Linked DNA regions of Homo sapiens. The protein of the gene in region 4 interacts with the protein of the main gene of each other region in a pairwise test. Each region holds a gene or a part of one and is shown on either strand. Other genes may lie near its edges.

Evidence for each region.
Region 1: the proteins of RNF112 (region 4) and NDUFV2 interact in binary tests that used the Homo sapiens proteins (3 or more experiments, as listed by UniProt).
Region 2: the proteins of RNF112 (region 4) and SOD1 interact in binary tests that used the Homo sapiens proteins (3 or more experiments, as listed by UniProt).
Region 3: the proteins of RNF112 (region 4) and MECP2 interact in binary tests that used the Homo sapiens proteins (3 or more experiments, as listed by UniProt).

The regions. Positions count from the first base shown.
Region 1 is NC_000018.10:9,113,477-9,121,871, reverse strand, and holds part of NDUFV2 (NADH dehydrogenase [ubiquinone] flavoprotein 2, mitochondrial precursor), read right to left. Parts: exon of another isoform or gene 4,234-8,395; intron 4,035-4,233; coding exon 3,969-4,034; intron 2,547-3,968; coding exon 2,484-2,546; intron 2,399-2,483; coding exon 2,282-2,398; intron 608-2,281; exon of another isoform or gene 416-607; intron 1-415.
Region 2 is NC_000021.9:31,660,496-31,666,156, reverse strand, and holds part of SOD1 (superoxide dismutase [Cu-Zn]), read right to left. Parts: intron 2,368-5,661; coding exon 2,271-2,367; intron 1,852-2,270; exon of another isoform or gene 1,675-1,851; intron 1-1,674. UniProt on the Homo sapiens protein: Destroys radicals which are normally produced within the cells and which are toxic to biological systems.
Region 3 is NC_000023.11:154,033,750-154,042,144, forward strand, and holds part of MECP2 (methyl-CpG-binding protein 2), read right to left. Parts: intron 6,155-8,395; exon of another isoform or gene 6,043-6,154; intron 3,113-6,042; exon of another isoform or gene 175-3,112; intron 1-174. UniProt on the Homo sapiens protein: Chromosomal protein that binds to methylated DNA. It can bind specifically to a single methyl-CpG pair. It is not influenced by sequences flanking the methyl-CpGs.
Region 4 is NC_000017.11:19,411,553-19,419,992, reverse strand, and holds the end of RNF112 (RING finger protein 112), read right to left. Parts: intron 8,364-8,440; coding exon 8,323-8,363; intron 7,496-8,322; coding exon 7,210-7,495; intron 7,056-7,209; coding exon 6,849-7,055; intron 6,714-6,848; coding exon 6,582-6,713; intron 6,417-6,581; coding exon 6,312-6,416; intron 5,899-6,311; coding exon 5,848-5,898; intron 5,545-5,847; coding exon 5,488-5,544; intron 5,408-5,487; coding exon 5,333-5,407; intron 5,248-5,332; coding exon of another isoform or gene 5,224-5,247; coding exon 5,106-5,223; intron 4,956-5,105; coding exon 4,786-4,955; intron 4,708-4,785; coding exon 4,654-4,707; intron 4,476-4,653; coding exon 4,401-4,475; intron 4,289-4,400; coding exon 3,818-4,288; 3' UTR 2,717-3,817; downstream 1-2,716. UniProt on the Homo sapiens protein: E3 ubiquitin-protein ligase that plays an important role in neuronal differentiation, including neurogenesis and gliogenesis, during brain development.

The DNA.
Region 1 (8,395 bases), on a different chromosome or scaffold from region 4:
AATCATATAGTCTAGTACTTTCTAACCCTTCACGTCAAGACATTAATAGAAAACAATTGTTTTGACATTCTGGTGTTCAGGACTAAGGGGATCACTAACTCAGCATCTTTTCTTAGGGCAAGTCTGTTAGGGAAAACGAGGATTTCTAGCTGTTTGCCAGGGCTGGTCCTTGTCTATCGTGATTTATAATTCTGTCTACAACTTTCTAGGTGACCTATTATCATTAAGACTTACTATCTGGCATTCTTAAAAATTATAGATATATCCATATTCTAATATAAAAGAAGAGCGGGCATTTCAGACAAGTATGTTAACTTTCTCATATTAGGAATTCTAAAGGAAATATATTCTCAAAAGACATCTAATCATGGCTCACTTGTGACAGATAAAGTAATTGTGCTATTTCATTCGGCAGTTCTGAATCAAGGACGTATCCCTGAATCTGGGGAGCTCTCTATCAAAATATACATGCTGGAACCCTACCAAAGGAATAATAAATCTGGAATGAGGCTCTGACTGTCTAATTAGGAAAAGACTCCTTCCTGGAATTCTGCACATCTCCCTACACCTTAGTGACGGTTAAATAAATAATTATTAAGCTTCTGGATATTTTTTGTTGTAAGGTTAGGTGTTTCATGGGTTGGGGGGAGGGGCAGTAACATTAAAATAAAAGTCCCAAATGTAAAGTGCAAAGAATCTTGAGTCTATTCCCTATACCCTACACTTCCTGCCTTTCCCCCACACAAATCCAACCCTAAATATAATAGGACAATATATAAATACATATTTTTTAAGAGATAGGGTCTCACCATCTTGCCCAGGCTGGTCTTAAGCTCAAGCAATCCTCCCACATCAACATCCTGAGTACCTGGGTCTACAGGCATGCACCACCATGCCTGTCTTATTTTTTAAATGTTTTCACTTTCAGTTTCTTATTTATTTTTATTTTGCTCTGCTAACGTGCCACTCAGCAAGATTTCCAACAGGCTTACCATTACTAAAAATATGATTTTTTCAAAATAATAACATTATAATTAGAAACATATACCTAAATCATTATAAAGTTGGCTATTTTAATTTAAAAAAATGTTAAGTAACTTCCCAAGAAATACATAATTTATCGAAGAAATAACCACCTATGTTTACTCAGGATAGTAACTCACTAAACTTGCTTTATAATATTTTTCATAGGGAAAAACCAGTGTTATAGTACTATACAATGCAAATAAAATAAAATATCAATAAACTAAATCTAAAATTTGCATTTAGGATTCTATTAGATAAATTGAGGACATTCCTATTCTCTCAGAAAGATGATTGTCTAGCCTAAGAGTTATAACCAAATTAAGTTTAGAAAGTGGTAAGAATGAAGTACAACAAAATCTCTGTTATAGTCAGTCAAGTAGAAAATGCACTGATTTAGAAATGAATTCAGTCCTAGCACTACCGCTCAGAAATCATAACTTAATAATTAGAAGAGGTCTACCTGGTTCAAAACTTTCATTGCCAATGAGGAAGTTCAGAGAAAAATCAGGTGTCTTAGTTCTAAGTCAAAAATATTTTCCATTATATAACACAGCTTAATGGTTATGTGATTCTCATCAGAATCAAATAGTATGTGGTTTGTGTATGGCACTTTATAAATGATATGCTGTAATACATCACCACACAAATGTAGTTATTTGTATTAACAGGATACGAATAAACTTGAAATTTGTATTACTGCTCAAAACTATTAGGAAAAATGAATATTATATGAATAGAGTAACTTTGAATAAAATGGGTCATCCATAGCATTTCTATAGGTCGTTGATTCCAAAGTAGCATAATCAAATTGTATAAATATCACCTATTATACAGATTTTTCTTACAGCCTACAGCCAAAGATGTAAAATATTAAAAATTTTCATACTAGTGAGCAGATCTTCTTTTCTGTAATTCTAGTGTTTAAATATTACATTAATTTTCAGAATATCTTGACACTAAGTTATACACATTTGGAATCTTTTATCTTTGACCATTTCCTTCAAAAGGAAAAAAAAAAACACATACCCTCTTTCACCATAATGCCTTCCTTATTTCCTGCAAGGTTAGAAATCACCTCTATGCATTAAGGGAATGAACAAAAACACAAAGACAATTCAAGGAAACATACAAATGGCTAAAGGGCTCCAAAATCCTAGATTCTGACACTGGAGATGATCAGAGTAATTTCTATAAAAGGAAATTATCATACACAATCTCTTCTCTTTTAGAACTAAGGCAAAAATGAATCCAGTACCTTGTTCATAGCAGAGATGGGCAACCACCCATTCTGCCTTTGGGCTAAATCCAGGACTGGAAGAACAGCTGCTGCTTTATGGCCTTCTGGATAGTTTTTTACAATTGCCTCTATCCTCTGTATAAAAGAAAGAACATCATTTTATACATCTAGAAAATATTACCTATTTGGTAAATTAATTATAATGTTAATTTAGCCATACCTTATAGTTTTCTGGTGTGAAATCAAATGGAGTATCAGGGTTATTCTCAGGAGTATCTCTGTGCTACACAACAAAAACAGTTTTTCAGACTTATCCAAATTCTCTCAAGTGTGAATGACACTGTACATTACTATACTATTACTTATTGTTTAATCTCTCCATTTTAATTCCAACATGATATATACCACCCTATCCTTCCATCAAAAAGAATGTCTAAACACACATTTGATAAGTATGATTACCAAAGTAAAGTTAGCAGAATTTAAAAATTTACAAAGGACCATTTAAAGAATAAGAGAAGTACCTTTAGGACCAAAAAAACCCAAACAACAAAAAGTGTTATCCAGCTTCATTAGAGAGTAAGATCTTCTGATAGAATTACCAAAACATTACCAATTATTGGAAGCCTTTATGAAATTAAAACACAAAATTTTAAATGTGAACATATGTGTATTTTCCCAAAAGCAAGGTTATCAGATTGTCAAAGGGATCTGGGATCCAAAAGGGTTAAGACCCATTACTTTAGGAGGGTACAAAAGGACCATCTTAAAAAAAAAAAAAAAAAAAAAAAAACAGCACCATCTCTTTCCCACGTTTTCCATAATAGCCAACAGCAAGAAGCTTTATCTCTTCTTAAAAGAGCAGAAGCAGGCCCTCTTCAAAAACTGACAAGAAATGGCATGTCAACAGGAAATCAAATGAGTCACACTGAGATTAACACTTACGATCAATTAATGTTATGTATGTGTGGTGAATACAGAAATGAATCTCTTGATATGTTAACTCTCGGAGTTCTGCTTTTTAAAGGACATAAGCCAAAAGAGGAAAGAAAACAGACACTCTGGACAATGATCTCAAATATGTGGCCAATTTGATGCTTGATATATAGCAGGAAGCTACTTCTTACACCACTAACTCTAAATCATCACACAAGTCCACTATATTGCCTTTATACTAGATTAATCCCTGAAAACAGCACCTTGTCAGAAAAGGGAGATATAATATCTTATCCTTTCCAAATTGTGCAACTAATCTGGGGAGTTCACAGACTTCTATTTATAGTTAAAACTCCGGAAACTAAAAATATAAAGACCAGCTGCTAATCTAGTTACTACATTACTAAAATCCATGAGTTTCAAACTAGTGTCATTTTGGGATTCAACAAGTTACAATCTCCAAACTCTCAGTAAGCCAACATGACTGAGAACCCAAAGTGTGATGAGAATCAGGTTAGGGCTCACACAGTAATTTCACTGGAAATAAATTCTTATTCCCAGAGTTTTCCTGATACTAATTTAAACTCATGAGGTTCAACTGGAACCAACATCTTTTGAAATGTAGTAAATTCAATTAGCTGTATGTAAATTCTCACGATGACCATCATATATCAAAGACAATGGTATTTAAGATATTTTGGATTTTTACAATGGATTTACCCCAATTTCCAAGTCTTTTCTTTCCAAAGAAATCTAAGTAATTACTTACCACAAATAAAGCTCCTCCAGCTCCATTTTGCATAACTGTCTTATGCAAATTCCTTACATGTCTTCCCTAAAATTTAAAATTTTAAGAAAGTTTAGTAAATCATAGCCTTAAAAAATTTTTCATAAAGAAATACTTTAGGATTCATAATTTACAACAATGGAATCAACTTATAAAAGATCTTAAGAAATATGGTATTCTACCCTATCCATCTCTATTTCAGGAGAGTTATTTTACAAATGGAGATTCAAAGCCAAGATTCACCCACCTAACATCACACACACGAGTCAATAGGAGAACCAGGACAACCCAGATCTGCTGACTTGTGTACCTTCCTGCCACGCTCTGCTGGCATGCATTTGGAGAATTAATGTACTATTAACTTCTTGACTTTCACTTTTGTCTGAATCAACTTGGATGCCAGCTTTCACTTAGTGTGAACCTTCATAAACATGTTTTCATTCTGTACAAATGAGTCATATACTCTGTACAAATGAGTCAACTGTATCCTCCTTCCTTTTCAATCCTTTACTAAATTAGTTCTGAAACTCCAGCCGTAAAAAGTAGTTTCTGGCCGGGTGTGGTGGTTCATGCCTGTAATCCCAGCACTTTGGGAGGCTAAGGCAAGGAGATCACGAGGTCAAGAGATCGAGACCATCCTGGCCAACATGGTAAAACCCCATCTCTACTAAGAACACAAAAATTAGCTGGGCGTGGTGGCGCACGCTGGTAGTCCCAGCTACTCGGGAGGCTTAGGCAGGAGAATCGCCTGAACCTGGGAGGCAGAGGTTGCAGTGAGCCGAGATCGCGCCACCGCACTCCAGCCTGAGCAGCAGAGCAAGGCTCCGTCTCAAAAAAAAAAAAAAAAGTAGTTTCAGAAAGCTATTTATGATGCTATGCGGACTGACAATGTTCAGTTGCTTTGGAAGGAATCTGATTATTCTCTCAGCTGCATTTCATTTCTCTTTGCCCTCTTGCTCCTACCCTCCACTCCTACCCTGTCCCCCGCCCCCAAGTATTTCAACTACTGTTCTGGATTCCTCCAATTTCTGAGTTCTACTAACCACAGACGGCAGAACACTGGCTGGGTTAAACCAAGCATGGAACTAGCAAAGAGTTGGACAATTCAAAGGCAAACATAGAAGAAAGTAAACGGAGTAATATAACACAATAGTATATTTAACTTTACCCTAGGTCCAAATGATATTTCAGTTGAAGAAATATTAATAAATAAGTTTACATGGAACATCTGCTTTAATTAACAAGAAAAGACTAAGGTACAGGATGTGAGACACACGTACAAAAGATGGGAGTGATAAATATCAATTTCAGGATAATTGGAAGGCAGGGAGGGATACAGTCAGAGGTGCACAAGGGGGCTTTGATTGTGTTGGTTTTGTTTTGAAAAATTAACTGAAACTAAAATTTAGAAGACAGTCACTGTCATCTTAGCTCAGAAAATTTTTTTAATCGAGTAACAATTTTTGAGTAACATCAGTGAGTTACTTAACTAAATTCTGAGAGAAAAGACTGTATACTTATAATAAAAGGATTAATTTTAAGAGTAGGGAAAGTATTCAGTCTTCTCCTAATTTCTGAACACTAACATTTTCTGTTTATTGGCTTTTTATCCACTCCTTGCAGGCTGTCCTCAGGGCTCAGTTCACACTCCTATCTTCTTTTCTCTATAAAGCCTTTGCCTCTGAGAACTCATCCATTAACTTGACAGTGATGAGTCTTAAATCTTACACACATTTGATGACAAGAGGCTAATAGCCTGAAGAGATCATAAATGCACTTAAAAAATGAGTAAAGATCATGAACAAAAGTTTCACAGAATTCAAACTGCTTACTAGTAACTAAAAACATACAACTTAAAATAACATTACTAGTTATCAAACTACCAAGTATCTTTTTTCTTTTAAGATAGCATTCCATTCTGTTGAGCATATAGAGAAACAAGCACACTTAAAAATTCATATAGCCTTTTAGAAAGCAAATTACCATGATATATGGAAAGCCTAAATAAGTGTCTTTTTTTTTTTTTGGAGACGGAGTTTCGCTCTTGTTGCCCAGGCTGGAGTTCAATGGCATGATCTCGGCTCACCACAACCTCTGCCTCCCGGGTTCAAGCGATTCTCCTACCTCAGCCTCCCAAGTAGCTGAGATTACAGGCATGTGCCACTACGTCTGGATAATTTTTTGTATTTTTAGTAGAGACGGGGTTTCTCCATGTTGGTCAGGCTGGTCTTGAACTCTCGATGTCAAGTGATCTGCCCGCCTCAGCTCCCCAAAGTGGTGGAATTACAGGCGTAAGCCACTGCGCCTGGCCCCAAGTGTCCATTTTTTAATTTAGTAATTCTAACCTAGGTATTTTTCCTGCAGTACAAAATGAGGATAAAGCTTTACATGAAAACATGTTGTTCCTATTATGTTTATTGCAGCAAAAACACAACCTAAAAACCCAATCTGAGCAGGTTTTAACTAAATACTAATAATTCTGACACTAGAACGTTATGTAGCTAACAAAAATATGTCGTAAAAATAATCATGTAGAAACTGGAATCAGGGTTAAACAAAACAAAAAAAACAAAAATGCATAAATTATCATCCCAATTACATTAAATACAGACACTGATTAAAAGACTAGAAGGCCATAAATAATTAAAAGTGCTTATCTCTTATTACGATGTTAATGAAATAAGGGACTCTTATTTTACATTTTTTATATTTTTCTCTATTTTCCAAATTTCCTATTAGCATGGATTAACTGGCCAAAAAAATCCTACTTAAAATAAAACACTCAGCAGGTATAAGAAAAACTTATCTCTATTGTAAAACCTATTTCTCCTTCTAACCTCCTTGTATATCAAATTAAATACCACCAAATGTCTAAATTAAAATAGCTTCCATTTTGGATTAATATTTGATCCCTTTCTCATTAATCCAGGATCTGTCATGTACTTTTACTTAAAATAAAAATATAGAGATAATCTTGAAAATTATTCTTTAGGCTTATGTTGCTACATATTGGAAAATCTATTCTGAGGCATTCTCTTGCTGACTTGTAAAGCTCTGGATACGCACATGAGTTCACAGACATATTTCTAAAAGTGGTTTGAAGTCCAAATCGTTGAAGACAGACTACTGATTGAGAAGGGTCAGGATAAAGTAGCTAAACTCTAGGAAAAAAACAGACTTTCAGATTTTTTGTAGTTGTTGAGGCCTTGGGTTTAGATTACCATTCTGCCACTTACTAACATCTGACCTAGAACAACTCACTTAATTTTTTTTTAAGCCTCAATTTCTGTACCTATAAAACAGGGTTATCTTCTTATTGGACTATTTTGAGATTTAAGTAAAGTTTCTCTGAAAGTACTATATAACCTGTAAAGCATTATCACCTGCTTAACTGACACAAGGATAAAACATTTAATAACTAAAAAAAAAAAAAAAAAAAAGATCCAAACAACTGCATTTTAAAACTACACCTATTTTTAAAAAATTGTGCTGTTAGTTGACTTTATCAAAGAGTTACTGTCAAACACAACATACTGCCAATATTCTTGCATTTGCACATAATTATTTTTTCTTTATATCCATATGTATAATGCTTATACTTTTTCTAGTAAAATTATAATGTATTTGATGGTTAAAAAACCATCTACTTCTCCACTGAAATTAATTCATAAATTTCTCTTTTAGTTAAAGAAAGTGGGGAAGGAGGAAGAAATAGGCTGGTAGAAAGATTTCCATGGGTCTTAGGTTTGTGCATTTGGTGAGCAGCAGCACTGAACAGCTTTTGTTTAAGACCATCTTTTCTATTATTTTTGTATAAAATACCTTCTCCTGGGGCAAAAGTTGAGTGAGTTTTCTTACAGACAGGGTTTCCCAAGCTCAAGGTCCCTTAGCAGTGATGCACAGCACTCACCTAGGCTGTTCCATGTCACTCCCATTGTAGCAGGACAAGCCACAGACAAAACCCCTCAGACACTGAGAAGGAAGGGCTTTATTCAGCCGGGAGCTTCGGCAAGACTCTTGTCTCCAACAACCGAGCTCCCCAAGTGAGCAATTCCTGTCCCTTTTAGGGGCTCACAACTCTAAGGGGGTCTGTTTGGGAGGGTCGTGATCGATTGAGCAAGCAGGGGGTAGAATGGAACAGAACAGGACAGGGATTTTCACAGTGCTTTTCTATACAATGTCTGTAATCTATAAATAACCAATTAGGTCAGGGGTTGATCTTTACCAGGCCCAGGGTGTGGCACCGGGCTATCTGCTTGTGGATTTCATTTCTGCCTTTTAGTTTTTACTTCTTCTTTTTTTGGAGGCAGAAATTGGGCATAAGACAATATGAGGGGTGGTCTCCTCCCTTACCGTGAGATATGAATGTCAAAGGGAACTGACATGAAGTTCATGCTGCCTACTGACCC
Region 2 (5,661 bases), on a different chromosome or scaffold from region 4:
ACTGAAAAAATACAAAAATTAGCTAGGCGTGGTGGTGCGCACCTATAGTCCCAGCTACTTAGTAGGCTGAGGCAGGAGAATCGCTTGAACCTGGGAGGCAGAGGTTGCAGTGAGCTGAGATCGCACCACTGCACTCCAGCCTGGGCAACAGAGCAAGACTCCATCTCAAAAAAAAAAAAAAAAAAACCCCACCAAGTTCTAACTACTGTCTGACACTTGTAAAGTTAACACCCTTCTCTGGGCTTTGGCTTCTTCACTGTAAAAATAAGGGACCAGACTGATCTTCAACAGTTTTTCTATTATTAAAATCCCATGGTTATGATCCAAATTCTTAAGAACGTAGTATACTTTACAAAAAACTCATCTCCCCAGCAACATATGCCAAGCAGTTCTATCTGTGCCCTTTACTTGGTGCAGGCAGAATATTCAACAGCATCTTATGTGCAAGGGCCAAGGCTGCTGCCTTACACAACTCGAGGGGGCGGCATTCCAACTGTATCCTGTGTAGAAGGTGCTGCTGTGCACCAGGGGATGACATTCACAGAGCACAACCTCGACAGCACAGGAGGCCCTTTCATAACACGGCTGTCTTCAGCCACGCTCTCACCCGCAGGAGTCCCACACAGGGAGAAAGGCAGGCAAGTTACAGGAAGCAGCAGAGCAATCACCTCCCAGACCAGAGGCGGTAAAGCCAAAAAGCAACTCGGGGGAATTTCAGCAATTACAGAAATGGATCAAATCTGATCATTACAAATCACTATTTGAAACTAAATTAGCAAGATGAATAAAGTTAATTTAAGAAGAAATCTATAAACAAAAAAATCAGATTATTACTCAAATATGGCAAAAGATCACTAAATGCAACTTAACTCATAAACTTCTGTTAACTTGCTTCCAATCCCAAATTAAGAAAATAAAATTTGGCAGTTTCTCTGAACCTACTCTGGTTCAGGGGTTGCCTGATTTTTTAAAAATACTTTAAAAAAATTTTTTTTAAGCATATTCCAAAGTACCAATAATCCTCTGCATTCCATCTTCAGTTTGTATCATACTTTGGTCCCACTAAGAAGCCTGTGTTTGGGGTGTAGAGCTACTCTTACATGGCATTATGCAAATAAATGCAGCCCCTTTGCTCGAGGCACCCACCCTCAACCCCCAGCTCAAACACCTGGGATCATTACAAAAGTTAAGAGCCCAAGTTTTTATTTCCTATTTGCCTTCTTTAAAAAACACCCTCTTCTGGCTGGGTGCGGTGGCTCATGCCTGTAATCCCAGCACTTTGGGAGGCTGAGACAGGCGGATCACGAGGTCAGGAGAGAGACCATCTTGGCTAACACAGTGAAACCCCGTCTCTACTAAAAATACAAAAAATTAGCCAGGCGGGGTGGCGGGCACCTGTAGTCCCAGCTACTCAGGGGGCTGAGGCAGGAGAATGGCATGAACCCGGGAGGCGGAGCTTGCAGTGAGCCGAGATCGCGCCACTGCACTCCAGCCTGGGCCACAGAGTAAGACTCCGTCTCAAAAAACAAACAAACAAAAAAACACCCTCTTCTACAATGATGCTGTAAGACAAAACATCAACTCTTTCCCTTTCTTTTCCACACCTAGGTATCAAAGCCCAGTTTTGTGGCTAATCTTAAGGTTGATCTTCTTCTCTTTTTTTGGTTTCTAAAGACACACTACACCAAATCTTAAGACAAAGGGCACTGGACCTTCAGAAGCAGGTCCACCCCAGTCTTCACAATCTAGTGCAGTTACTTTTCTTGTGTGTACTCTGCTGGCATTATTACAAAAATCAGGATATGGTCCCAGTTCCTGCAATTTTAGCACAGTGCTTATATACAATAAAGTTGACCTCTTTTTTAAAAGAAAAGTTGAGGGTTTTCCCAGGCACAGTGGCTCACACATGTAATCCCAGCACTTTGGGAGGTCGAGGAGGATAGACCACTTGAGCCCAGCAGTTCAAGACCAGCCTGGGCAACATGATGAAACCCCACCTCTAGAAAAAAATACAAAAATTAGCCAGGCGTGGTGGTGTGTACCTGTAGTCCCAGCTACGGGCCAAGGCATGAGGATCAATGGAGCCTGGGAGGTCAAGGCTAAGGTCAGCCATGATCGCACAGCGCCACTGCACTCCAGCCTGAGCGACAGAGCAAGACCCTTTCTCAAAAACAAAAACAAGTTGAGGGGTTTTAACGTTTAGGGGCTACTCTACTGTTTATCTAACTAGGGTGAACAAGTATGGGTCACCAGCACAGCACAACACCCACCTGCTGTATTATCTCCAAACTCATGAACATGGAATCCATGCAGGCCTTCAGTCAGTCCTTTAATGCTTCCCCACACCTTCACTGGTCCATTACTTTCCTTTAAGAAAAGTGCAAAGTTGGAGAGAGTTTCTGAACAAAGAAAACAGCTGATTTACCTTTACCCCTCACAGTGAAGTAAAAAGCAGCCAGACTTGGGAGTGGAAAAATCTGTGTCCAAATCCCAGGCTGACCACTTTCTAGCCAGTGAACCTCCAGCAAGCTGCTTAACTGCTCTAGGCCTGTGTCCTCAAAAGGGAGATGGTAATCTTGTTCCCACACTCAATGCACAAGCACCCTGTGGCCAGGCTTCATGATTAAATAACATAAAAAGCACCTAATAGAGTGGCAAGCAAAGTGAGTACCTACACATCAGTGTTAGATACTTCATAGGCTTTGACTATTACAGTAAATAGGTAATGTAAGTACCTATTTATGTAGTAAATACTTTTGAATAGGTTATATTTGTACATGTTGAATATACATGTACATGTAAACGTTTTTTATTTTGAGACAAGAGTCTCGCTCTGTCGCCCAGGCTGGAGTGCAGTGGCATGATCTCAGCTCACTGCAAGCTCCGCCTCCCGGGTTCACGCCATTCTCCTGCCTCAGCCTTTTTAACCCAAAAGGTGTATGTCTCATCCTACACTCTGGAGCCCCTTGCTTTTTCTCCACGCACACCCTTTTCCATATGGCATACTCACTTGACTTTAAAAAAAAAAAAAGAAAAAGTCGCCCTGGAAATGTCCAACAGGCTACCCTGGGACCCCTGCTCTCCACTCCCCACTCAGTGAGTGTTTTTAAGTGTCCATCATAAGTTTTTTTCTTTTTTTTTTTGAGACGAGTCTCGCTCTGTCGCCCAGGCTGGAGTGCAGTGACATGATCTCGGCTCACTGCAAGCTCCGCCTCCCAGGTTCATGCCATTCTCCTGCCTCAGCCTCCTGAGTAGCTGGGACTACAGGCGCCCACCACCACACCCGGCTAATTTTTTTGCATTTTTAGTAGAGACGGGGTTTCACCGTGTTAGCCAGGATGGTCTCCATCTGCTGACCTCGTGATCCACCCGTCTCGGCCTCCCAAAGTGCTGGGATTACAGGCGTAAGCCACCACGCCCGGCTATCACAGGTATTTTTAATTAGCAGTCAGAAAATATTATATTCCACTGCCCCCAGGAGAGGACTGATTCTAGTCTAACCAGACGTACTACTGCTTTCTGAAATCTTTTCAAGCACTGAAACCTAGGTAACCTTTCCACTCTACCAAAATGAAAGCAAGCAGTATAGCCATTCAGGTAATGGTGACAGGTAATGGTGCTCCGTGGCTACATACAGAAATCAAGGAAGTTACAACTAGATCTCAGGACTAAAATAAACACAACATCCACACCACACCGTCATACAACATGTCAGTGTCTCTTGTTTTTAGCTTGGTTTGTTTTCAAATACGGCCAACAGTTAAGGGGCATTAACCCTTAAGATGTGACTTTCCACTGGAAAATATCATTGCTCAAATGAAGTATCCTGGCAATTGCTGCCTTTTTAAATTCTTTTCTTTTTGACAATAGATACTGTGACTCTTCTACAACCTTTAATTTTGGAAAAACTCAAATGTGAAAGTTGTCCCTCAAACACTCTGTTATCAAGAGCACAGGGCCAAAAACAGCAGGTTCTTTGAAACCTCCATTTAACCGGTAATACATTCAGGACATCTAAGTAGCTGTGCTCGGGTACAACCCTGCAGGGACCAGGCTATGAACTTAAGTGAATAACACAGGCCTGGGAAGCGAAAAAATATATGAACTGCTACAGCAGTACTGTCCTGGGCTAATGAAGGCTCAGTATGAAGAGATCTCCAAAAATTCTTCAAGAGAAGCTAGGAAAACTGGATTAATACGTGAAAAATTCTGATCTGTAAAAACTAGCAAAGAGTCCAAGATTTTAAACACGGAATAGGCCAAGCCAAGTAGCTGATAGCCAATGTATTATCTCTGCATATCTGGAAAGCTGGAATGCTCCACTATCCAAGGCTCATTCTCAGGTACAACGGGCACCAAACAAAACGAAGTCAGGCGCTTAAAAGAAGGAACTATGCAAGCTGCTCAGGGAAGGTGGAAAACCTGGGTTCATGCATGGATTCTCAATGGCCAGGGAGAAGGGATTCCTCAGAGGCGTCTTAAGAATAGCACTGGTGGCCGGGCGGGGTGGCTCACGCCTGTAATCCCAGCACTTTGGGAGGCCGAGGCGGGTGGATCACGACGTCAACAGATCGAGACCATCCTGGCCAACATGGTGAAACGCCGTCTCTACTAAAATATAAAAAATTAGCCAGGCGTGGCGGCGCGCGCCTGTAGTCCCAGCTACCCGGGAGGCTGAGGCAGGAGAATTGCTTGAACCTGGGAGGCGGAGGTTGCAGTGAGCTGAGATCGCGCCACTGCACTCCAGCCTGGGCGACAGAGCGAGACTTGGTCTGAAAAACAAAACACTAGTACTGGTGAATTATGTGGGGAGAAGTAAAGAGGGACAAAAAGAAGTCTGACAAATGAAACAGCAAAATGGAGTCAAATGCCAAAGAACCTTTTCCAGAAAATCTGGAGACCTATTAAAGAAAAAGGCTAAACTCATTATCTCCCTCACATATATTTCAGACATTTACACAGACTAACTGTTCCTGTCCTCTCACGTTTCTGTAAACCCCTTTAAAGACTGAATCTCATTCGTATAGTAAATATTCCCTCATGATTTTTAAGCCGAGTGCAAGAGAAAATTTTCCACCAGTTGGTAACTTCACTAAGGTTCTGGGGACAGTGTTATCACAAGCACCTTCCTTGCAACACGTTTTGTAATTTTACTGATAAAAGTTCTGAAAATATTTCTGTATATTTTACAAGAGTCGTTCAGAAGTTTGTCTCTGACCATCTTAGCAACCTGCCTACTGGCAGAGCAATTTTAAAGCCACTTTACGAAAATGTGGCTTAAGAAATGCTCCGACAACAGTTATTAAGTGCCAATTCGGTGTAATGGAAACTCCAGGTCTTCTAATTTCCAAATACGAAACTCCACCCACTGTCCTCAAACGACAGTTCTCAATCGTAGGTGCACATCAAAATCACTTTTGGAAACTTTCAAAAAACAGCAATACTCACCCTGCACTAGGACAGGTTTTGATGTAATTGGTCGGAGGTTGGGCTCTGGTGTATTTTTAGTAAGATCTTCAAATAAGCTAACTGTGCACCCAAAGTTAAGATCACTGCCCTCAAAAATCCCCAAAAGGGTCAGTTAAACCTCTGGCTCCCGGAGCTTAGGAGGAGGAAAAGGACCTCTGTTCAAGGCTACCTTCTCTGCCCTTGCAGCCCAAT
Region 3 (8,395 bases), on a different chromosome or scaffold from region 4:
CAACTCCCCTGTCCCATGTGGTTCACATCAGTGCTAGTCACCGCCTTGCGGCTGGTCTACCCCAAGAGACTTCCCCTCTTGTCTACACTGCACAGACTGTGCAATGAGGGCACCATGGCACTCACTGGCAAGCATCCTTAGGAAACCAGAACTCAAATGATGTAGGGAAGTTACCAAAGGCTGCTTAGTGCTGGGACTCAGAAGCTGCAAGGACGTATCTCTCCAGAACCATCAGGTCAGGTGTAGGGAGGCAAGAGATGTTCCAATCTAGTGACAAGGTCTTAGAGTGAGGGAATGTCTTGTCCCCACCATGACTCACCCCTGAGTTCCTCCCTATCCTGTATCTTCCTCCAGAAGTTTAGGGCCCAGAGTGTGGCTGCCAGAGTCACCTAGAGCCACTGCATACACAAAGGCATCCTACAACCCACAGAGCAGTCTTTCTTGCTGTAAAGAGGGGTCCCTAATCTGTCCCAGCACAGAGCTCGCCTTGTTTTGTTTTTTGTTTTTTTTTTGAGATGGAGTCTCGCTCTGTTGCCGATGGCATAATATCGGCTCATCGCAACCTCCGCCTGCCGGGTTCAAGTTATTCTCCTGCCTCAGCCTCCGGAGTAGCTGGGATCACAGGCGTGTGCTACCACGCCAGGCTAATTTTTGTATGTTTAGTGGAGACGGGGTTTCACCATGTTGGGCAGGCTGGTCTCGAACTCCTGACCTCAGGTGATCGACCCGCCTCAGCCTCCCAAAGTGCTGGGATTACAGGCGTGAGCCACCGTGCCCAGCCAGAGCTTCCTTTTCATGTCTCTGAGTCTTACAGCTCTCAATGGGAAATGACGAAGAACCCTGGAAAGCTAGGTGTGGCCTGTTGCCCACCAGAGATCAGCCTTTGAGAATGGACCCCTAGGCAGCTCCCCAGCTCCCCATAAAGGAGGGAGGGAAGGGGAGCCACCAGCAGAGTGGGCCAAGAAAGCAGACAGATGGGAATCGCTACTTCTACACAATCCATCATGGCACTGCCTAACGCCAGGGCTGCTCCCTAGAACCCGGACGGTCCTAATGTCAGAGAAAAACAGTGAACTAATGGGAAAGATCTGGCTTCTTCGAAACTCTCATTTGCATTTCCCAAATACCTTAATCACCATGAGGTCAAACTATAAACCTAAACGTGACGTAAGGAATGCCTTCTAGAAATCTATGCTAAAGAGACACCTCCAGAAATCTCAAAGAACATATGCATGATGTTATTTGCTACAACATTATTTTTACCAGCCAAAGGCTTCCAATACCCCCGATCCCTATCACCAGGGCACTTGCTGAATAAACTTATGGTGCGCCCACACACTGGAGTACTGTGCAGATCCAAAGGGACTAAACAAGAGCTCTAAGAACTGCGATGGAGTCATTTCCAGGATCCACTGTGAAGCAAAGGGAGCAAAGCGCAAACATATCTACTGCATTCTACCAAAGAAAGAAGGGGGGGTATTAAGGAAGGACACACCAGGAACTAATGAAATTGATTCCCTGCATGGGGTAGGGGGAAAAAGGTAAGGGTACAGGCACAGGAGTGAGGCCTAGCTGAACATGCCTCAGTGTAATTCTGACTTCTGAATCATGTAAATGTTTATATTACCCAAAATAAAATTCAAACTAAAAGTAACAAAACCTTATTACACTTAATGCAAATAAAAACAAATGAGTTCGGGCCAGGCATGGTGGCTTCAGCCTACGATCCCAGCACTTTGGGAGGCCGAGGCGGGTCGATCACCTGAGGTCAGGAGTATGAGGCTGCAGTGAGCCATGACTACATCACTGCACTCCAGCCTGAGTGACAGAGCAAGACCCTGTCTCTCTCTCTCTCTTTTTTTTTTTTTGAGACAGAGTCTTGCTAGAGTGCCATGGCGTGATCTTGGCTCACTGCAACCTCCGACTCCTGAGTTCAAGCCTTCTCCTGCCTCAGCTTCCCGAGTAGCTGGGATTACAGGTACCTGCCATCACGCCCGGCTAATTTTTGTATTTTTAGCAGAGACGGGGTTTCACCATGCTGGCCAGGTTGGTCTTGAATTCCTGACCTCAGGCGATCCACCCACCTTGGCTTCCCAAAGTGCCGGGATTACAGGCATGAGACACCACGCCTGGCCAAGACCCTGTCTCTTAAAAAAAAAAAAAAAGAAAAGAAAAAAGAAAAGAAACAAATTTAATTCTATATCAAATTGACAATATACCACAGAGAAAAGATTTATTTCAAATGACTTTTGACTACAGTGCTCTGCAAACCTGTAGTGGGACATATTCTAAGGCCAACAATAACACTCCAGGGGCAGTAAACACACTAGATTGGCTCCCAGGAGAGATATGTGATTCTGCTTCTGGGGCATCTTGTGCCAGAAAGCCCGGGGAGTGCAAGAGAAAAACAGGGAGGGCCCATGAGAGGCCTCTAGCAGTGGTCCAGGTGTGGCCCAGGGTGGGGGCAGTTGAGGATTTGGGGCTGGTCTAGGTGGTGAAGCAACAGAGCTCGCAGGTGGATTAGTGTGGGGGTGAGGGGCAAGGGTGAGTCAGGGACCATGTCCAAAGCCTGGGAAGATGGTGGTGCCACTGATTGAGAAGGAAAAGACTGAGGGGCCGGCTGGGTGCAGTGGCTCTCACCTGTAATCCCAGCACTGTGGGAGGCTGAGGCAGGTGGATCACCTGAGGTCTGGAGTTCGAGCCCAACCTGGCCAACATGGTGAAACTCCGTCTCTACTAAAAATACAAAAATGAGCCGGGCGTGGTGGCAGGTGCCTGTAAGTCCCAGCTACATGGAAGGCTGAGGGAGAAGAATCGCCTGAACCCAGGAGGCAGAGGTCGCAGTGAGCTGAGATCGCAAGACTCCGTCTCAAAAAAACAAAAACAAAAACAAAACCACTGGAGCGGCAGGGGAGCAACACCCACAGAGACAGTTATACCATCAAGGAGAGAAAACAGTTCTTCAGCTACTCGCTAGAAAGGGGGGAAACCCCGCTGTGATCAGATTCTGAGTTGGGCCTGAATGAAAATGAACTGTCTGCTTGGGGTTTTAAAGGCTTTTTATTGTGGTAAAATATACAAAACAGGTCAGGTGTGGTGGCTTACACTTGTAATCCCAGCACTTTGGGAGGTGAGGCAGGTGGATCGCTTGAGCTCAGGAGTTTGAGACCAGCCTGGGCAACATAGCAAAACCCTGTCTCTACAAAAAAAAAAAAAAAAAAAAAAAATTAGCTGGGCATGGTGGTGTGTGCCTGTAATCCTAGCTACTCGGGAGGCTGAGGCAGGAGGATCACTTGAGCCTAGGAAGTTGAGGCTGCAGTGAGCCGTTGATCATGCCACTGCACTCCTGCCTGGGCGAACAAACCAGACACATATATGTCTCAAAAAAAAATACATATATATATATATATATATATATATATATATATATATATATACACACACACACAAAACAAAGTTTACCTTTTTAACTATTTCTAAGTGTACAATGAATGAACTTTTTTTTTTTTTTTTTTGAGACGGAGTCTTGCTCTGTCACCCATGCTGGGGTGTGGTGGCGCAATCTCGGCTTACTGCATACAGGCTCTGCCTCCCTCCTGAGTTCAAGCGATTCTCCTGCCTCAGCCTCCCGAGTAGCTGAGATTACAGATGCGCACCACCACGCCCAGCTAATTTTTGTATTTTTAGTAGAGATGGGGTTTCGCCATGTTGGCCAGGCTGGTCTTGAACTCCTGACCTCAGGTGATCCACCCACCTGGGCCTCTCAAAGTGCTGGGATTATAGGTGTGAGCCACCATGCCTGGCCCTAAATGAACTTTTAAGAGCACTGAAGATGGGAAATAAAGGGTCTTTAACTCTACTGTAATATTCTAGTTCTTTCTAATGGAAATTACTTGAAGCAAATATAGTATGATGATTTTCAATTCTGTGCAATGAAAGGCACATGGGTGTTTGTTAATTTGCTGGCTGCTACTTTTATAATTAAAGACAAATTTCAAAAAACCCACAAAGAAGCCTGGATTGTGCTGGGTGTGGAGTGCAGGTAAAAATGATAAAAAACGTGGATGGAGCTGGAGTCCATTGTCTTCAGTGACACAGCTCAGACACAGAAAGTCAAATACCGTACGTTCTCACTTAGAAGCAGGAGCTGAATAGCATGTGCACATGGACAGAGTGAGGAATGGCAGACACTGGAGAGACTGGGAAGGGTGGGAGGGGGTGAGGGATGAGACATTACTTAACGGGTACAATGTCCACTATTCAGGTGATGGTTACACTGAAAGCTCAGACTTCACTACTATACAATATATCCACGCAACAAAACTGCACTTGTACCCTTTAAATTTAACAAATAAAAAACAATGATAGAAAACAGGTATTCCAAATGAGTTTACCCTTAGCCCAGAGGGCCTGCCCAGTCCCAGGGTGACCTGGGCATTTGCACACCCTCACTAAGCCTTCACTGCAGGACCCAAGGGAGGGAGGCTGGGCTAGGGTGCCAGGTGACTCCCCAAGGCTGTCCCCCAGGGGGTTTATGGTGTTTGCCGAAACACAAACTTTTTCAAAGAAACCTGCCAGGTGTGGTGGCTCATGCCTATAATCCCAGCACTTTGGGAGGCCGAGGCAGGTGGATCACCTGAGGTCAGGAGTTCGAGACCAGCCTGGCCAACATGGCGAAAACCCCATCTCTATTAAAAATACAAAAATTAGCTGGGCATGGTGGTGCATGCCTGTAATCCCAGTTACTCAGGAGGCTGAGGCAGGAGAATCACTTGAACCCAGGAGGCAGAGGTTGCAGTGAACCGAAATCGTGCCACTGCACTCCAGCCTGGGTGACAGAGTGAGACTCCATCTCAAAAACAAACAAACAAACAGAAAACAAAACAAAAAAAACCCCATACACCTCTCTTCATCCTCCCTCTAATCAGAACCCCCCACACACACACAATCTTGATTATGAGGAGAACTAAATAGCTAGTTCACAAGTTCATACATTTTACAGTTGAAGTATCCTCAGAAAAACCACCTATTCAACTCCTGAGTGTTACAGATGGAAAAAAAGAAGTTCGACTAGACAGAGGAACTTGTCTGAGATCACCGTGAGTCAAAAACACACGTGTCTGTTCACCAACTGCCTTCGTCCTGAGCCAGATCCTGCAGCATCCTTCCACCTCCAAGAACTCACAGTTTGGAAGGGAGGACAAATAGGTAACTACAACATAGTTCCAGCCTCCCTTCCCCCTGAAGAAAGCTTGCTCCAGGCACAGCGGAAGCACAGGGGTGTGGATAATGAATCAGGAGTGAGTGGGCTGTCAGGGCTTATGAGTTCCACAGGTGGGACAGAGGGCTCAGGGCATGCCAGGCCAGATGGGCAGAGGCGGCACTATCAACATGGTTATAGCTCCCACCCTATCACCCGTGTGACGCCCCTCCCTCGAGGAAAAAGTGACCAATGATGCCCACCCTGTGTCACCAGAGGCTCTGGGCCTAACCCTGTCACCCCCTCCCACCTTTTCATTTGGAGAACTTTCAGGTTCATCTGGAGAACTTTCATCTTTCAGGTTCAGTTAGGATGGCACTTCTAGACCGGGCGCAGTGGCTCATGCCTGTAATCCCAACACCTTAGGAGGCCGAGGTGAGCAGATCACTTGAGGCCAGGAGTTTAAGACCAGCCTGGCCAACATGGCAAAACTCCGCCTCTACTAAAAATACAAAATATTTGCCGGGTGTGGTGGTGTGCGCCTGTGGTCCCAGCTACTCGGGGACTGAGGCATGAGAATCGCTTGAACCTGGGAGGCGGAGGCTGCAGTGAGTTGAGATAGTGCCATTGCACTCCAGACCAGGCGATAGAACAAGATTCCACTTCCCAAAAAAAAAAAAAAAAAGATGGCACTTCTGAGACACCTTCCCTGCTCCTGCCTCCCTCCCTGCTCTATGAGCCAGGGCACCCGAGCCCTCAGTGTACTTAGAACACCCCACTGTGCGTGCCAACCCCCATCTCCCCGCTCAATGCATAATGCCAGGCACAGGTGCAACCCTTACTCAACACATGCTGGATGAATAACCACAACACGGACGCAGCGCTCCACGTGCTTCTTCTGATGGCTGGAGACCTTCGACCGTAAGCTTCTAGCAAGGAGAGGCTAGCTCAGTGCTGAAAAAAAGGTGGGCTCTGAATTGGTGAATAAACAAATGATGAGTTTGGGACATATCAGTAGTCCGTTGGACACTGGTGGCTTGGAGATGGCGGAAGATGAGGTGGAGGAAGTCACTGAGGAGGGCCTCAGTGCCCCAGGGACAGTAGCATGGAGGATGGTTACGCCAGAGGATGGATCGACTTCTAGCCATGTGGTGGTCAGGTATGCAGACACCTCTCCTGCTGAAACAACTACAACTGCCAAACTGAGTATCTTACAGAAGCTGCTAGAGAAGCCACCCACAAGCTGGCAAGAAAGGAAGGAATACACAGGCTGAAGAGCAAATAAAAGTACGGGGCCCTTTTCTGTGGAGAAATCTGGCAGGCACCACCTTAACACACGACCAAACTGAGCTCAGGCCCCTCAGTGCTGCTGAGATGAACCAGCATCACGAGTAGGAGACTGAAGCTTACCGTGAGGAGACAGCAGGAAGAGTCCAGAGAGGGCGTGCCATGCAACCACGGTCTGGACTCAAGATGATGAGAGAAAACAAGGGGGTGGGGGAACATTTCTGATAAAGGAGACTGAAGGGATGACACAATCGAATACAACACACAGTCCTGGACTCTGCATTCCAGGCTCAAAGGCTCTAAAAAAGGCATTTATGGGGTATGTGGAGAAATGTAAGGTTCTGTGTTAGCTCATTGCTAAACTTCCTGAGTGTCTTAACTGTACTGTCTGCTCTTAGGAAAGGCATGCTTAAACGTTTAGGAGTGAAACAGCACGAGGACTATGACTAACTCTCAAGTGATCAATGGGCTAGGGGAAATACAGTGCCAATATGGTAACATGTTTAAAAGAAGGGAGATGACATCAATATAATCAGAAGCTATGCCAACTGACAGTAATATTTTGAAGCAGTGGTAGGCAAGCTTTTTAACAATTAAAGAGAATGCCTTCATATTACACAAAGACATTAAGAAAAAAAGCTGAAGGCTGGGCACGGAGGCTCACACCTGTAATCCCAGCACTTTGGGAGGCTGAGGTGGGCGGATCACGAGGTCAGTTCGAGGCCATCCTGACCAACATGGTGAAACCCCCTCTCTACTAAAAATAAAAAATTAGCCAGGTGTGGTGGCGCGCACAAAGGGACCGGGGCGGTGCTGGCGGCGATGCCAACAGACCTCAGTGTACTGTGGGGTTCTTTCAGCCAGAACTGTTCATGGTTTCATCAGTGAGCTCCAGTTACCACACCACACAAGTTTGGAGTGATCCACCCCGCCCCAGTTTTTCCTGCACGAACTCATGTTTTTATTGTGTGATTTACAGAACACAAGATCTTTTTCTAAGAATGCACACATCACACGTTGAAGCAGAAAGGCCTTTACAAAATCTTAAAATACCTACAAAATATGAAGTAAGGCTCTTAAGAAATAAAATATTCAATGATTTTGCTGCTAGAATGCAAACATTAGATCAAATCCTTCATTTGATCTAGCAAAGGAAAATTAGAGTTGCAGGAATCTTGTTTTCAGGCCAAACCATGACATCCTGAGGGGTCTGATGGCAGGAACTGCCTGCATTTTCCTCATGAATGTGACCTGCAGTGATCTTGTGAGAAAGGCCCGGAAGGCCGTGCAAATTACAGGGGTACAAGCAACAGCTGGCAGGTGTGGCCAGACAGGCAACTGCAGTTAAGGAAAGACTACTCAATCCCTGAGGTTTTCAGATTTTACAAAAAGGCAAAAAAGCCAGGTGAACAAGGCAGATGAAAGGTATTTTTCACTTGAATTGGAATCCAGCCCCCTCCCTGTCCCCTGGAGTGAGCTCCAGAGAAACTTCCAGAGCCCCAGCAATATCCCAACCTTTCGTAAATTCACTCATGCTCGCCACTTTCAGGAGATGGCATTTCTCAGCACCTTTCACTTCCAGTTATCCCTCGGCACAGCACAAAGAGCTAAACTACCACTCGAGGCAGTTAACCTAAGGGCAGGGTGGTGGCTACAGCTCCAGGTGAACAGTCTGGGACCAGAGGAAATAATGAGCCCCCCCTTGTACTGGCTGCTTCCACCCTAAAGTGTCATCCAGATGGTGTTTCCAATTCTTTCTACTTCCAGTATTAGCTGCAGAATTACGGAATCAAGGAGGCTTCTCTGCATGAATCAATAAAGGCTATAGCACTTTGAGACACAAGCTTTGGCCCTTTAAAAATGTGAGAAATCAAACTGGCACAGGCAGAGTGTCTCAGTGGTCTCCAG
Region 4 (8,440 bases):
AAGGCGTGCCTAGGTGCCTTGCACAACCTGCTTTTTTTGTTGAGACGGAGTCTCACACTGTCGCCTGTGCTGGAGCACAGTGGTGTGATCTCGGCTCACTGCAACCTCCGCCTCCCGGGTTCAAGTGATTCTCCTGCCTCAGCTTCCCAAGTAGCTGGGATTACAGGTGCCCACCACCACACCTGGCTAATTTTTTGTATTTTTAGTAGGGACAGGGTTTCACTATGTTGGCCAGGCTGGTCTTGAACTCCTGACCTCGTGATCTGCCCACCTCGGCCTCCCAAAGTGCTGGGATTACAGATGTGAGCCACTGCGCCCGGCCAACAACTGCATTTCCTAGAGATTCAAGTTGCTTTATTTTCCCTACAGAAAAAGGCACTAATTAGCACAGATGACCACCCCAATCACCAGGTGAATTAGGTACGCTGTAAGTGCATGTATAGCAAACGACGCTGTGGAGCTCTCTCTCACCTGAGTTCAAGTCCTCACACATGACAGCATGTGTGTAACGGGTTGTAGCTGCTTGACTACATAAATAGGGGGATTTCTGACTGTCTTTATGATTGCGTTAGCTGATAATGCATCCATGTGTTTAATGCTTATTCAATCACAGAACTAGTATTTTCTTTATTTTCTACATTTGTGGAGAGAATATTCTGGGTTGGCAGGAGATTTTATTTAAAATAGTTTTTTTTCCTCGATAGCACAAGGTCTGTCTTCCAAGTTGCCGTAGGCAACAATTTTAGCAAACGTTCTGCTGTGACATAAAATGCTTTTCCTTACTGCCCAGCCCCCAACTGGTGATACTTTACCTGTCTGATACAGCATCACTCCATTTCAAAGAACCCATTTCTGTGTGTGTTAGAGTAGGGTGGGTGATGGTGTACTAAGTCGACCTAGATGTCGCATCCCCTTCATGCAGTAAAAGTTTATTCCTTGCTCGCGGCGTGGTTTGATGAGAGCCAGTGGAGTTGAGGGCTTATTCCTGATCCAAGCAGTCAAGGGCCTTCAGGTCGCAGGTTCCTCTTGTCTTGCAGTACTGCCATCTGCAACATGAGGGAGGCCTCAGAAACAGGAACCACACGGCAAGTCACCAAACCTCTAACCCAATCTTGGAACCTACCAATCTTGGAACCTGCAGTGGGTCACAGAAGGGAAACCAGCCAGACGTCAGCATGCTGCTGAGACCTCGGTCAATGAGTCACACCTGGGCTCTTGTGAATTACAGAATCAATGTTGGAAGCCCAGGAAGCCAACTAATCAGGTTTGGAACCCAGAAGCCTGGTCGTCTTGGAGTCTGGAGAGGCTTGAAGGCTCCACTGAGCCAGGGATTTGGCACCAGAACTCTTGGGGTCAAGTCCTGGCCTACCTCTGACTAGTTGTTTCCACTGAGACACATTATTTCTCTCAGCTTCAGCGTCCTCCTCTGTGAAAATGTGTGTTCTACATACTGCTTGAGATGATTTCAAGGCTTAAGGGAGATAATGTTTGAGGAAATGTTTTGAAAGCTACAAGGCACAAGACAAACACCACTTAATATTACTCATCTTGTCTCTGCAGAGACATCCCTCACTGGGCCAACTTCTTCCCATCTGTGCAAAGAGTGGGGAGAGGTAGACACTGAACTGTTGTTCCTTCCAGTGCTGCCGGGTGGGATTCTAGCCATGTAACACCCTCCCTCTCTGAGTCTCTGGGCCCCCTCATCCTGAGCCTCCAAAGTCTGGAAGGTTTCATAGCTCATGTGTCCACCAGATGACAGTGGAAGGGCTCAGAAAGATGCTTCCAGAAAGTCCTTCTCCACAAACACTACACAAAGTTAAGACCCTGTTCCCACCCTTGGCTCAGACCCTAAAAGAGAGAGTCACTCTCATTTGTCTTTACCCCACTCAACCCCACCCTGGCTTTGGGATTTCTCTACATTCTGTATTTTGTCCCCAGCCTGTTAACTATAGCTTCACTGCTGAGCCATCTGTTCTAGACCACGTTGCTGCCTCTGCCCACCACACACTTCCCTGGAGCTGGACCTGATCAGCCAGAAGAAGCATCTGAAAAGGAGCATCTCAATTTCAGCACAGTCGACCTTAACAAAATAACTTCAGGAAGTGCACCAGCTTGGGAACCAGGACTTCGGGGTTCCCCTGCTTCTGTCATCAGCAGCTGCACAGGCTTATCTGAGACTTTCTCTCTCTGGGTGTGCACCTATAAAATGCCAGGATTGGATGCAGTGACTACTGCTGTGGTTCTGAGATGGGGAGCTGGGGAGCTGGGGAGCAGGGCTGGGAGGAGAATCAGTTGGGTGAACTCCTGGCTGGCTGAGCCCTGCAGAAGTGGTCCTGGGCTTCTCCTTCCTTCAAGGCTTGACCAAGTTCTCTCTGCTTATGTATCCATTCTGTCCTCTTGCTGGGACAGGTGCTTGTTGACTGCCTGTTGACAGGATCATGGGAAGCAGTTTCTCAGAGAGGAGACAAGAGGAGCGGAACCCCAAGTCCTAGTGGAAGAGCCTGCAAAGGTGCCCATATCCACTTGGCCTTGGCCTGAGGCCTCTTGCAGCCACTGAATGGGGACCTCTGACGTTCACTTCCTTGGATCTCTTGAATTCCAATCTCCCTCTTCCCATCTGTGCATTCCAGCAATGGATCTCATTGGTTCACCTGCTCCCACCATGAAGTCATCTGAGGGTTAAATTCTGTTTCAATAATATACTGGGAAGCTGACATTCACATACACACATTTTATTTTTCATAAAATAAAGGATAATGTGCCCACCCATACCCTGTAAGTTTCATAGCCTAGAAGTCAGTTTCATAGCCTAGAAGTCTTCCTAGTAGTCAGATTTTCTGTCCCCCAGAGGGAGAACTCCCGCACCCCCAGTTCCCAGGGGGCCTGGTGTTTGAGGAGCTGCATCAAGCTGCATCTTCTTACAAGCCCAGGGGAGAAAGGATGTGTTTAAGGGTAGAAGTTGTTCATTTTGTTTTCCTTTGCAAGATTTTGATAGAATCTAGTATAAAGGCTGTCTGGCTTAGCTCAGAATGCAAGAAAAGGTGTTATTCTTTCGCATTTGGGCACTTCACAGAGGGCATGGGCACTCCCCCATCTAAACAGGCTTGAAAAAGGACACAGACCCAAGAGAGGCCCTTGCGGAGGCCCAGCAAAGAGTGGTTCAGGATGCACAGACAGGCTCTCTGGGGCTGTGGGCCAGGAGTGGGAAAGCCACCTTAGTCCTGCTGGAGCAGATTTGGGAAGGGTCATGGGAACAAGTTTCTCTGCTCTGGGGTCTGGGCCACAGTCTACCATGTCCCATCTCTCTGGTTCTGCCCAGTGTTCCTTCCTTCCTGTCATCCCCAGCACCTCATCAGTGCTCCCCGCTCCTGAACACCATGGTCAATCATCCTGGGGCTTCTCACATCTGTGAAAGAACAGGTCTCTCGACCACCTAGGGGTAGACTTCCAGGATGGTGCCTGCTTAACTTTCCTACAATCCAGGGTCATCGGGGAAATGAGCCAGGTGGGGAGGGTGGAGTCTCACTTGCAGCCAGAAACCCTGGGATGTAGCCTATCTGTGACAAGGGCAGATCGGCAACCATCTGCAACCAGAAACAGGCCGGGTGTTCTATCCACTGCCCCCAGATGCTGCCTCCCAGGTTCCAAGAGCCACCTTGAGTCCCAGCTCAGCTGCCACCCAGACACCGAGCATTCGACCAGGGCAGTGCAGTACATGGCGGTGCCTTGGAATCCCTGGCATCACCCTCCCCCGACCTGCCCCTCTTCTTCATCCCCACCTGACATCTCTCCTGTCCTTCAATACCTCCTGGGGCTGTTACTCTTCCTGGAGAAGGGGCTCTCGGTCCCCTTCCAGAAGCCTCTCATCCTCCTCCTTCTCCATGCAGCCCACTGTGGCAGCCAACCCAGCACCCACGCCACCCCCAACCACAGCGGCCCCTGTGGCCCCCACGGCAGCTCCAGCAGCCACCATCCCAGCCTCTGCAGCCAGTGCAGCTGCTGCCATGCCAGCACCCACCACGCCCCCTGCCAGGCCCATGAGCCCGGCCCCCACAGCACCCCCCACAGCAGCTAGGTGGCCACAGAAGCGCATCGTGTAGGAGTCCATGAAGGCCTTGGCCGTGGCCTGCAGCTCAGCTTCCAGTGCCTCCAAGGTCTGATCTCTCCCCTTGCAGAGTAAGGCCACACCATGGCGGGCCAGAATGGCATCTTTCTGGGTGGAGAGGAGGTTCCGCATGGTGTCTGGCAGGACCCGCAGCGCAGAGAATATGCGCTTGGTGGCTACGTCCTGTGACAGGGAGGGGAAAAGAAGGTGCCCTGACCAGGAGTCCCAGGTATCCTCTCCCTGATCTGGACCCTGCCCGGCCCACACCTGCCTCCCGTGCAGCCCCGGGGCTCACCTGCTGCCTCACATACTCCTCGAACTCCCTCTTGGCAGCTTCCACCTTCCTCAGGTCGTGCAGCTGAGCAGCCATCTGTCCACGGGAAAACCCAGGCTGCCTCCTTCCTTCCTTCTCAGCCAGGGGCGCTGCTTGTTTCCTCATCTCCACTCCCAGGGCACACAGACCCCCACCCCGGAGGCCTCGGCACAGCCCCCACCTCCCTGCCTCCCCTGTCTCCCTGCCAGAATGCTGGATCCCCCAGCGCTCATACCTCATCCGGAGAGGTGAAACCGGGCCCTGTCCTCCCCATCCATCCTGAGAGGTTCTGCGGAGATACCATCGCTGGGGTCAGGGAGAGCAGGGGCCCAGCCGAGTCGCCTGGGTCTCCAGGGAGTTTTCACACCTTGATTTCCTGAGCTAGCTGCTGCCCCGTGAGTAGGCGTCTGTCCCCCCTGGCCACGGCGCGCCCCTCGTTCCAGTACCCCTGGCAGCGGCTCTTAGCGTGCTGGGGGGCCGCACTCAGCACATCTGAGACGTAGGCCCCCAGAAGGTGGCGGAAGTCATCATCTGTGTCTGAGGGAGAGATGTGCATGCTGAGAGACTGCGGGCTTTGGGAGGAGAAGGGGTGTCAGAGGCCAGGAGAGGTGGGTGCTTCAAGGGGCTCGGTTGCCGGAGGGGAGCTGGGAGCAGCGCAAGAGAGGTTCAGCTCTCAGAGACACTCACCACCAGGGCTTGCATGGCCTTGGTTCATCCGCCGCCTCCCTGGGGCAGGCAAGAGGCAGCAACGGGCTCGCTTCCCTTGCAGCAGCTCCTGCACCTTGGGGTATCTGCCAGACAATCTCTGTGAGGCAGCGAGAGGAGTGCTCTGAGCTAGGAGGTCCAGCCTCCCATGTCTTCCCCACCTCTGCCCTGTCCATGGCCCCTCCACCCCATCCCCTTGCACCACTCACCTGGAAGATGTTGCCTACATGCCCCTGCCCTGCCTTGTTGGGGTGGGATGAGTCACGAACTAAGAGGTCCAGATGCTGAAAGAGAAGGGGTCCTGACACCAGCAAATGGGGGTGGCGGGGCCTGGGGCCAATGAATCCAGAGATAGGTGTCTCACCTGGATTGGCACCATCCCATAATGCTTGCCCATCACCTCGGCCACGTGGACAAACATCTGGGGGTGGGACACAGAAAGCGTCAGGGCTGGGCCACTTTGAGGACTATGGTGCACCCCAAGCCTGTCTCCCCACCTCCCTACGCCTGCTGTAGGAGCTAGGCTCCCCCTTTTGCAGCCTGGGGTTCTCCTGCCTCTCCCCAGACCACACATCTCTTGCTTTACTCTCCACCCTCCCCCTTCAACCCTGTTCAAGTGTCATAAAACCCTAGGCCAGACCAGGAGGGCACCTAGTTCCTTTGGGTCCAGCCCTAGTGGGGAGGGTGGGGGTGGGGGATGCCCCAACATCAGAGGTCTCTTTACCTCCAGATAGTCCAGGTCTGTATCCTTCAGCTCCTGGGAGGTGCTGAGGATCTGGAATCAGAGAGAACAACATGTATGAGAGATTACAGAGGCCGGGTGACTTCACTGGGGAAGGCCCTGGTGAGTAGGGAGCTCGCAGGCAGCCTGTGGGCCTCAGAGTATGGGAGAGGCCAGTATGGGGGCCTCGAAGGCTGCAGGGCTGGGCTGGCCTCAAGGCCGGAGACAAGCCTGGAGGGTAATGTGATCCATCAGGTCTTCAGCTGCCCCTGGGACCATCAGCCCACTTTTAGGAATAACCCACGTTCCCACCTTCACCAACTAGGAGCACCTTCCCCCTTCTAAGGCAGCCCCAGAACCTATCAGGACCCCAGACACCAAAGCCTGTGAGATGCTCTGGCCTTGAGGAAGCTGAGCTGGAGAAGGGTGTGTGGGGTGGGGATGCCAACATCAGCGCCCCCCATCACCTGGTAGGAGCTCAGCATCGTGGTGAGAGCACAGAGCTTGATCCTTGTTTCCCTGCTCAGCTCAGGGCTCATGGCATCCCCTGTGTCCACCAGGAACACCGCCACCTATGCAGGGGGTAGGGAAAGACCCAAGGGGCCAGGCCTGCCTTGTTCTCCCACATTCTTCCCAACCCTGCCCCGTCCCATCCCCATCTTCTATCCTCACCCCAGAGACGCCCTTCTTGATTCCCCTTCCCATCCCTGACCTCCTTCTGCCACTTCCCCCCTCACCTTCTTCCCTTCTTTCCCCAGCAAGAAGGGGTGGCTCCACATCCATATGCCCCTGGCGAGGCCATTGGCGCCCCACCTGCAGCCCTGCAGGGATGCCTCTCCTCCTCTTGGCCGGCCGCCCTCACCAGACTCCTGCAGGGGAGAGAAGGGAGAGCATCAGTTGGTCGGTTCCTTGTCCCCACAGACCGGAATACCAGACCCAGCTTCCCCCAGGCAGGAACCCCCATCCTTGCTCCCCGCCTCCCTCCTGCCCCGCCCCGCCCTCACCAGGCCCGGCAAGCCCTGAAGCAAATGGTTGAGGAGGAAGGACTTCCCTGAGTGCTGCTCCCCCAGGACAGCGAGGAGGCAGACTGGGGTGTCCCTGGCCAGAGGGTGCTTCAGGCAGCGGTTGATGGCCCCCATCCTAAGGATGAGGCCCCCAGAGGCATTGATGCGAACCAGCAGCAGCGGCTCCGCCCTCACAGGACACGTCTCCTGGGCCAGGAGAAGAGAGGGGCCCCTGAGCATCCAGGACCAGCTCCTGACCCTGGAATGTGTTCAGCCTGGAGCTCTGTGTCCTGATGTTCTAGAATAGGGCCAAAGCCACCCCCTCCTCTTGGGTCTGACTGATTAGGCCCAGTCCCCAGACCTGCAGTGCAGGGGGCAGCGGCCGCTGCGGCAGGAGCTTCATCTTCTCGCCCAGGCTCCGGAGGCCCCTCTTCTGCTTGCATATCTTCCGGCACTCAGGACAGCAGGGCGGCTCACAGCCCGGGAGACGGTGTGTGCTGAAGCACCGTATGCAGAAGTCGTGGCCACAGTCCAGCGAGATGGGGTCGCGCAACCTCTCCAGGCAGATGGAGCAGGTAGGGAGCTCCCGGGGCGCCATGGGCTGGGGCCCCAGGCCTAGCTCCAACTTGGGGAAAGGTGTATGGGACCTGTGGGGCAAAACAGGCCATTGAAAAGCAGGATGTCTATTGGGGGCAGGGGGTACCGGCCAGGGTTGTGGTGGAAGACTGATGGCTTGGGAGTGGAGGTCCCTTTGTGCCAACCCAATTTCCATCAGTGCCTCCATGGACAGGCGGAGCTGCTCCCAGAGAGGCCAAGCTCTGCCCGTTCCTCACTGACATGTGTCCTAGGACCTGGGGGCCTCAGAGTGGGGGCAGCAGAGCAATGGTGAGAGAGTCTGAGAGGGAGAAAATCTGAGTGGAATGGACTCCACCACATCCCAGCCATGCAAATGCAAGCAAGTTCCTTCCCCTCTCTGGGCCTCAATTTCCTAACTGTCCCAATGGAGAGGATAGCAATACCCCTCATGGGGCCGTTGGGGTGGCCATCCGAGAGGAGGCGTGTGCAGCTGTCTGCACAGTGCCTGGTGCAAATGCTTGGGAAGAGCCTCTCCCGGCGTTCTACAGCGGGGCTCCCTCCATGAGGTGCTGACTTCAGCCAGGCCCCCAGGGATGATACCCTCCACAACCCCATGCTACAGGGACAGTGAGGAGAAGCCATCAGCCTGTGCTGCAGTTGGGCAGATGGCTCTGGATCTTAGAAGATTCCTTCCGCTCTCTGCTCTGAGCTGGCATCTGCCTCCCTGCAGCACCCACCTGCTTCTTCCTGTCCCTCCCTCCACAGCCTGGCGGATCCAGCCTCAGGCGGACAGCCCTCCCGGCTGGGCTGCCGGGCTCTGTGTTCCAGGACCGGCCATTTCAACTGACCTGCCTGGCCTCACTGCACCCATCCCAGCCTGGAAGGCCCTGCTACTTACCAACTGTTGCCGCTGTTTCCCATGAAGCTCTGTTTTCTCTCCTTGGAGAAAAAAAAAAAAAAAAAAGATTTAGAACATAATCCAGACTTCTATCTTCACCCTGGATTTCCAGGGACCC